2 linked regions of the Homo sapiens genome follow. The protein of the gene in region 2 purifies or fractionates together with the protein of the main gene of each other region. This does not show direct contact. Each region holds a gene or a part of one and is shown on either strand. Other genes may lie near its edges.

What was found.
Region 1: the proteins of XRRA1 (region 2) and KIAA0232 purify together in Homo sapiens (affinity purification with mass spectrometry; one large-scale study listed by BioGRID and IntAct). This does not show direct contact.

The regions. Positions count from the first base shown.
Region 1 is NC_000004.12:6,788,905-6,792,726, reverse strand, and holds part of KIAA0232 (uncharacterized protein KIAA0232), read right to left. Parts: intron 1-3,822.
Region 2 is NC_000011.10:74,904,033-74,907,854, forward strand, and holds part of XRRA1 (X-ray radiation resistance-associated protein 1), read right to left. Parts: intron 3,242-3,822; coding exon 3,113-3,241; intron 2,425-3,112; coding exon 2,207-2,424; intron 1-2,206. UniProt on the Homo sapiens protein: May be involved in the response of cells to X-ray radiation.

The sequences.
Region 1 (3,822 bases), on a different chromosome or scaffold from region 2:
CAGAGTGAGACTCTGTCTCAAAAAAAAAAAACAAAAAAAAAAAAACCTAAGACTATCAAGACTACAACAGCAGATCACTGAAGCAAGCAAGGGCCCTGTATGATGCAATTACAGGCTCATAAAGCCAACCCTGTGCCTTTATAAACTTTATGAGCTTAATATTCTACATGCAATATAAAAAATCTGTGCTTAATTGTATGAAATTATCTCACAGGACTACTTCAGAAAACAAAACATCCGGCCTTAACAAAAGTAGTAAAACTAATATAGCCACCAAGAAAATTTTTAACATGACAAATGATTATTCAGAGTAGTTAGAAACTTGTTGGTCAATTTTTTTAAGGCTGCTGAGAGTAAGGTGGTTACTCATGAAAGTTCACTAAGACATATGTACAAAAATGTTTACTGTAGCACTGTGTTACAAATAACAAAAACCTGGAAACTCTTCATATCAACTAGTTAAATAAATTCAGGCACCTTCACACAAGGTAATACTAGGCATATTAAAAAAAGAACATGGTAAAGCAAATCTGTACCTAAAGTAGATCTGTGTATTAGTCTGTTTTTGCAATGCTGATAAAGACATACCCAAGACTGGGTAATTTAGAAAGGAAAGAGGTTTCATTGACTTACAGTTCCACGTGGCTGCAGAGGCCTCACAATCATGGCAGAAGGCAAGGAGGAGCAAAGTCACCTCTTACATGGATGGTGACAGTCAAAAGAGGAGAGATTATGCAGGGAAACTCCCCTTTTTAAAACCATCAAATCTCATGAGACGTATTCACTATCATGAGAACAGCATGAGAAAGACCTGTCCCCATGATTCAATCACCTCCCACCAGGTCCCTCCTACAACATGTGGGAATTCAAGATGAGATTTGGGTGGGGACACAGCCAACCCGTATCAATCTGTATGTCTGATATGGAAAGCATTCCAAGATACAAAGTTTAGTGTTTGTTTAAATAATGACACAAGAACACTCTTTACCATGATTCCATTTTTTAAAATTTATCTGTGGTCTTCAAGGCAAGATGAATACAGGATAGGAAGGGAGATGAAGAAAGAGACTTATTGTTCATGTTAAAAAGTCGGCTTGAGTCCAGGCATAGTGGTTTACGCCTGTAATCCCAGCATTTTGGGAGGCAGAGGCAGGAGCATCGCTTGAGTTCAGGAGTTCCAGAACAGCCTGGGTAACGTGGTAAAACCCCATCTCTACAAAAAATTTAAAAATTAGCTGGGTGTGGTGGTGCATAACTGTAGTCCCAGTTACTCAGGAAGCTGAGGTGGGAGGATCAATTGAGCCTGGGAGGTGGCCAAGGCTACAGTGAGCCATAATTGTGCCACTGCACTCTAGCCTGGGTGACAGAATGAGACCCTGTCTCAAAAAAAAAAAAAAAAAAAAAAAAAAAAGGCTTTATGACAGCTACTTGTATTCCAATGTTTTGGCAAATCATACAAAACACATACTTTAACAAGTTTAATTTAAACTTTAAAGTATATAAAAACAGGCCAGGCACGGTGGCTCATGCCTGTAATCCAACACTTTGGGAGGCCAAGGCGGGCGGACTGCCTGAGCTCAGGAGTTCGAGACCAGCCTGGGCAACATGGCAAAACCCCATCTCTACTAAAAATACAAAAGATTATCTGGGCATGGTGGCACACACCTGTAGTCCCAGGTACTCAGGAGGCCAAGGCAGGAGAATCGCTTGAACCCGGGAGGTGGAGGTTGCAGTAAGCCAAGATTGTACCACTGGACTCCAGCCTGGGTGACAGAGCAAGACTGCCTCAAAAAAAAAAAAAAAAAAAAAAAGTATATAAAAACAAGAAACTCCTTCAGATGGTACTGGCAAAAGATTAACAAAAGTAGAATCAGGACTCAATTATCTATGATGGTAACTAACCAAAGAAAGCAGTGGCAAGGAAAACAACCAAAGAAAGAATTAAAAACATGTCTACTCTATTTCAACTTTCTCTCCATTAAAATATTTAGGGAAAATGCTAGCAAGGAGCAACATACTAATCAGACATCTAATAAAGGGCTTGCCTGGCATGGTGGCTCATACCCACAGTCCCAGCACTTTGAGAGGCCAAGGCGGGAGGATCGCTTGAGGCCAGGAGTTTGATATCAGCCTGGGCAACATGGCAAAACCCTGTCTCTACATAAAAAGAATAAAAATTAGCCAGGAGTGGTAACATGAGCATGTAGTCCCAGCTGAGGCAGGAGGATCACTTGAGCCCAGGAGGTCCTGGCTGTAGTGAGCTGTGATCGTGCCACCGCACTCCAGCCTCGGTGACAGAGTGAGACTCTGCCTCAAAAAAAAAAAAAAAAAAAAGACCTTTTTTAATTAAAAAAAAAAAATTAAATAAAAAAAGGAAGGGCTTGAAAAAAATCTCCAAACTGGGTGAACAATTCTGAAATAATTACTGCTGGTTTTCCCTATCTTCTCCCTATTCAACCAGGGGCAACACTGAGGAAGAGACAGATATGGAGAAAGCCTGGCAACAGGTAAGCACTTAGGGAAGATGTCAGAAACAGAAATCTCAACAGTCATTCCAAATACCAAAGAGGAAGTTTCTACTGCTTAATGTATATTAACAAGATGTAAGATTAAAGTGAAAACATTCGCTTTCCTGAAAATAACATACTGTATAGTGTAAACTTTGACAATTTCTATTTTCCACTCTTTTTTTTTTCTTGAGACAGGGTCTCGCTCAGTCACCCAGGCTGGAGTCCAGTGGTGCAATCATGGCTCACTGCAGCCTTGATCTCCTGGGCTCAAGCGATCCTCCTGCCTCAGCCTCCTAAGTAGCTGGGACTACAGACATGTGCCACCACACCTGGCTAATTTTTAAAATTTTTTTGTAGAAACAGGGTTTCACCATGTTGCCCAGGCACATCTCAAACTCCTGGGCTCAAGTGATCCTCCCACCTCGCTTTCCCAAAGTGCTGGAATTATAGGCAAGCCAGCATGCCTGGCCAATTTTCCAGACTTTCTTAAGCCATATGCAAAAAACCTGCTCATCTACAGACAGGTTTGCCTGTCTTCAGAATAATTTAGGACCACCATCATGAATCTGTTTATGCAAAAGCCCTCTCCAACTCAGTCACAAAATTAATGAAAGAACGTAGATGCAAGTTGAAAATGAGATGACTGGCCAGGCACGGTGGCTCACACCTGTAATCCCAGCACTTTGGGAGGCCGAGGCAGGAAGATCATGAGGTCAGGAGTTCAAGACCAACCTGGCCAACATGGTGAAACCCCGTCTCTATTAAAAAATAAAAAATTAGCCGGGCATGGTGGCACGCACCTGTAATCCCAGCTACTGGGGAGTCTGAGGCAGGAGAATCACTTGAACCCACGAGACAGAGGTTGCAGTAAGCCAAGATCACGCCACTATACTCCAACCTGGGTGACAGAGTAAAACTCAGTCTCGGGAAAAAAAAAAAAAGAAAAGGCCGGGCATGGTGGCTCAGTCCTGTAATCCCAGCACTTTGGGAGGCCAAAGCGGGCAGACCACGAGGTCAGGAGATAAAAACCATCCTGGCTAACACGGTGAAACCCAGTCTCTACTAAAAATACAAAAAATTAGCCGGGCGTTGTGGTCGGGCGCCTGTAGTCCCAGCTACTCGGGAAGCTGAGGCAGGAGAATGGCGTGAACCCAGGAGGTGGAGTTGGCAGTGAGCCGAGATCGCGCCACTGCACTCGAGCCTGGGCGACAGAGCGAGATTCTGTCTCAAAATAAAAATAAAAAAAAAAGAAAGAAAATGAGATTTTTTTCTTTACACACACACCAGAAATAAATATGTGAACACTGTCATA
Region 2 (3,822 bases):
GTAAACAGAAGTCTCTGCTCCTAAGTTATACATATGTACACATGATAAAGAACCTAAGAATGAGGTTCAATCTTTCAGTCTAAAGAATCATTGGTATATAATTTTAAAAATTAAAACCAATCTAAATTATTGTTAGAGTTTATTACATTATGGGAAGTGATGGGAGTAGGGTGGCATAGATAGATGCATATTAAAATTTTCTTATTAAAAAAGAAGACATGTATTTGGTTGATTCTAGGTGTTGATAGACAAAAGTGAGTTTTAAAATGTGAATTAAAAGTTTTAGGGTAATAGCCAGGTGCAGTGGTCCCAGCTACTTGGGAGGCTGAGGCAGGAGGATCACTTGAGCCCCAGAGTTCAACAATACAGTTTGAGCACGATCGTGTAACCGCACTTCAGCCTGGGGTGATAGGGTGAGACTCTGTCTCTAAAAAGAAAAAAAAAAAAGTTTTAGGGTAACCATTAGAGATACAGACATGAGATTTCTTGCTTTAAACAATTAGTGAAAAGATTGGAATTGAAAGAAAACTTAGTGCTCACAAGAAGAAAAAAAAGAAAAAGCATAGGTAAATAGAAAACACACTAATGGTAGAAATAAGGTGAAATGTATCAATAATCACCATGTGAGTTAAATTCTTCTATGAAAAAAGACTCATTAAGAATCATATAAGCAAAAATATGCAGTACTATATTGTTTTTAAGATATCCTAAAATAAATATTCATATCAAACAAAATAGAGGCCCAAGTCAAAACCAAAATTATTTATCTACCTGGGATATTTTACAACGATTAAAATACACAACCTACCAAGATAAAAGTCACAAACCTAATAACAGAGAACCAAACCAACTTCACAGTAAAAAAAAAAAAAAAAAAAGCCAGAAATGCAAGGAGATACTGACAAATCTACAACAGTGGGGACAGACTTTAATATACCTATTTCCAAAGTTAACAAACCAAGCAGACAGAAAATTATTTTAGGGAGAATCTGAATAACATAATTGTGCCCTTTATTAAGTTGTTACTATTATTATTTGTAGAGACAGGGTCTCACTCTGCTGCCAGGCTGGAGAGCAGTGGCGTGATCATAGCTCACTACAGGCTCAAGGGATCCTCCTGCCTCAGCCCCCAGTAGCCAGGACTATAGGTGCATGCCATCACACCCAGCTAATTTTTTAATTTTTTATAGAGATAGGGTCTCGTTCTGTCATCCAGGCCAGAGGGCAGTGGCATGATCATAGCTCACTGCATGCCTGAAACTCCTGGCCTCAAACAATTCTCCAGCCTTGGCCTCCCAAAATAACTGCCACTGTGCCCGGCCAGTTATTAGTATTATTTTTAACTTTGAAATCCATCTTTCTTTATTCTGCTTTAGAATGCTGGAGCTGAGGCTCTCAAAACCGTATTTCTGCTTTGACCGCTGGTTTCCTGTTAGACTCTGACAATATGGGTGGTGCTAAAGGGAGACTGCAAAGCTGGAAGAGGAAAAAGGGGCTTATCTCTTCCTATCTGCTTCCCATGGGTTTCCTAACTGCTTGTGCTTCCTGTGAATGCCACTGGAATAATGTGGTTTTTGATTTGTTTTGTTTTTGCTGTAGTCTAGCAAGTCTTTCCCCAGCAGTAGCTGAATCTAGTTTGCAGTTTTTCCAACTTTTATAAACTAGCTTCACTGTGACTCCTCCACAGGCACCAGCACCAGCTGGCCAGTATCCTCAGAGATCTGGGTCTCAGCTACATGAAGCCCATCATAGCTCGGAGACACCAGCAGCCAAGCAGCACCGCTTCCCCAGAGGTCTAAATTTCAGGTGTCAGGAGCACCTCTTCCAAGCTTCTAAAGTTGCATAATTTCAACCTCATTCTACAAAGAAAACTCCAGGCTCAGGTGGTCTCATGGTGAATTCTTCCAAAATTTAAGGATAAAATAATAATAGTATATAAACTTTCCTAGGAAACAGAAATAAAACTTCCAAAACACATTTTATCAGGCAAGCATAACCTTGATTATAAATCCTAACAAGAATACTGTAACAAAAGAAATCAATACACCAACACATCTCCCAAACATAGATGCAAACATCCTTGACAAAGAATCAGCAAATTCAATTCGTGATATTCACCATGACCAAGTGAGACTTTCAGAATAAACTCTCAGAAGTGTATTTCCACCATGAGGGTAGAATTTCTGGGACAAGGGGTGTCACTCACCTGTCCGGTCAACATCCTTTTTCATGGGCAGTACAGTATAATCCAGTTGCTCATCTGAGTCCTCAAGCATCCTTGGCTTGGACTGCAGCATGAATTGGGGCTCTTTATGGGGACTTCCCCTGCCTCCATTCCAGTCTACTGACTCGTCATAGAGCTGAACTTGCTGTAGGTATGGGATCCTGATAATCCTGTTTTCATCCAAGCTTAACTTCTTCAGTCTTCAATTAAGGAAAGTGAATATAGAATCATAGCAATAATGATACCTCAGGATTGTTTACCAAGCAACTTTAGGGAAAAAACATGGAATCAGGCTTGGATACTTATTCCTCTTGTGTGACGTTGAGCCGGTGACTTACTCTCTCTGGGATTCAATATCCCTGTCTCTAAAATGGGGATAATATTTATTAACCTTTCAGGGTTCTTGTGAAGATTTAATGAGGCAATATGTAAATGGCCTGGCACAAAGTAGTATTCAGTAAATGGTAGTTGAAACCAAAGTAAATTTTCCAGAGAAGTAAAGCTTAACAATGTAAATGCCACTATTTTCTTTACTTCAGTTAGAATTCAGGAATTAAATTTCTCTTTCTGATTCTCAATATTTTAAAAAATTTTCCTGTCTCTACTGTCAGGGTCCGAATCCTATCTTGGGTAAAATCTCCTCCTGTTTTCCTTTCTCTTTGCTGCTTCTAATTCAGTCATGTGATCAGAAATGTCCTCACTCATGGCCATTTTTATGGAGGAGCCAAAGCTCAGAGGGGAGAAATGACTTACCCATGGCCACACAGTAGAGATAAATTGTGGAGCTAGGCTTTAAACCCAAACCTTTTGGCTTCCAGAACAGCACTCAGAGTGTGAGCAAGCCTGGGGATTAGAGGAGGCCCAGCAGAGAAAGGCTTATGGCTTTACCTCCTGAGCCCAGCCAGGCTGGCAAAGCAACTGGGGTTGGAGAGTCTGTTGTCATCCAGCATCAGTGTCTCCAGCGCTGGGAACCTCAGGATGTACCTCTTGCTTGTCAGCGATGTTACAGATGCCTCCCTGTGAGTGCAAAGATCTTGGGTAATGAGCAAGGTCGAGGGACAAATTCCACCATTCCCAGGAAGCCATGGAGGACAGGGAATCAATTAGGAGGACTAACCAGCTTAGGAACGGTTCTAGTGCCCAAAAGAGGTCCCCATAGGGATGCACAGAAAGTATAATTCCTTCCCCACCTTCTCCTTTCCCAAACACTATTATACATACCATATTGTCTTCTGTATGGAGAAAGGTTACACACATCATTGAAACCAGGTTAGGGCAGGATGGGGGATTGTATAGGTAGTGCTTATAGAAAATGCCAGGTGAAAGAGGCATGACCAAGCTGGAGGGAGCATTCTGCAGATCACTGCACAATTTTGACTCAGGAAGACTCCTTGTTATGCTGTGTCACCTAGTAGACTGGTAACTGGGAGCACCAGGAGACAATGCCCTTGTTATAGACCACAGCTTTGCCACCTAGTAGGGTAAAGTAGGGTGGGTTGAGGGCACCACCCCTGGCTGCAGTGAGGCTCTCTTCTCAAGTGGCTTCATAAAATGAACACATGAGTAAGGAGTGGAGAAGTTTCTCCTTAAACTCAAAC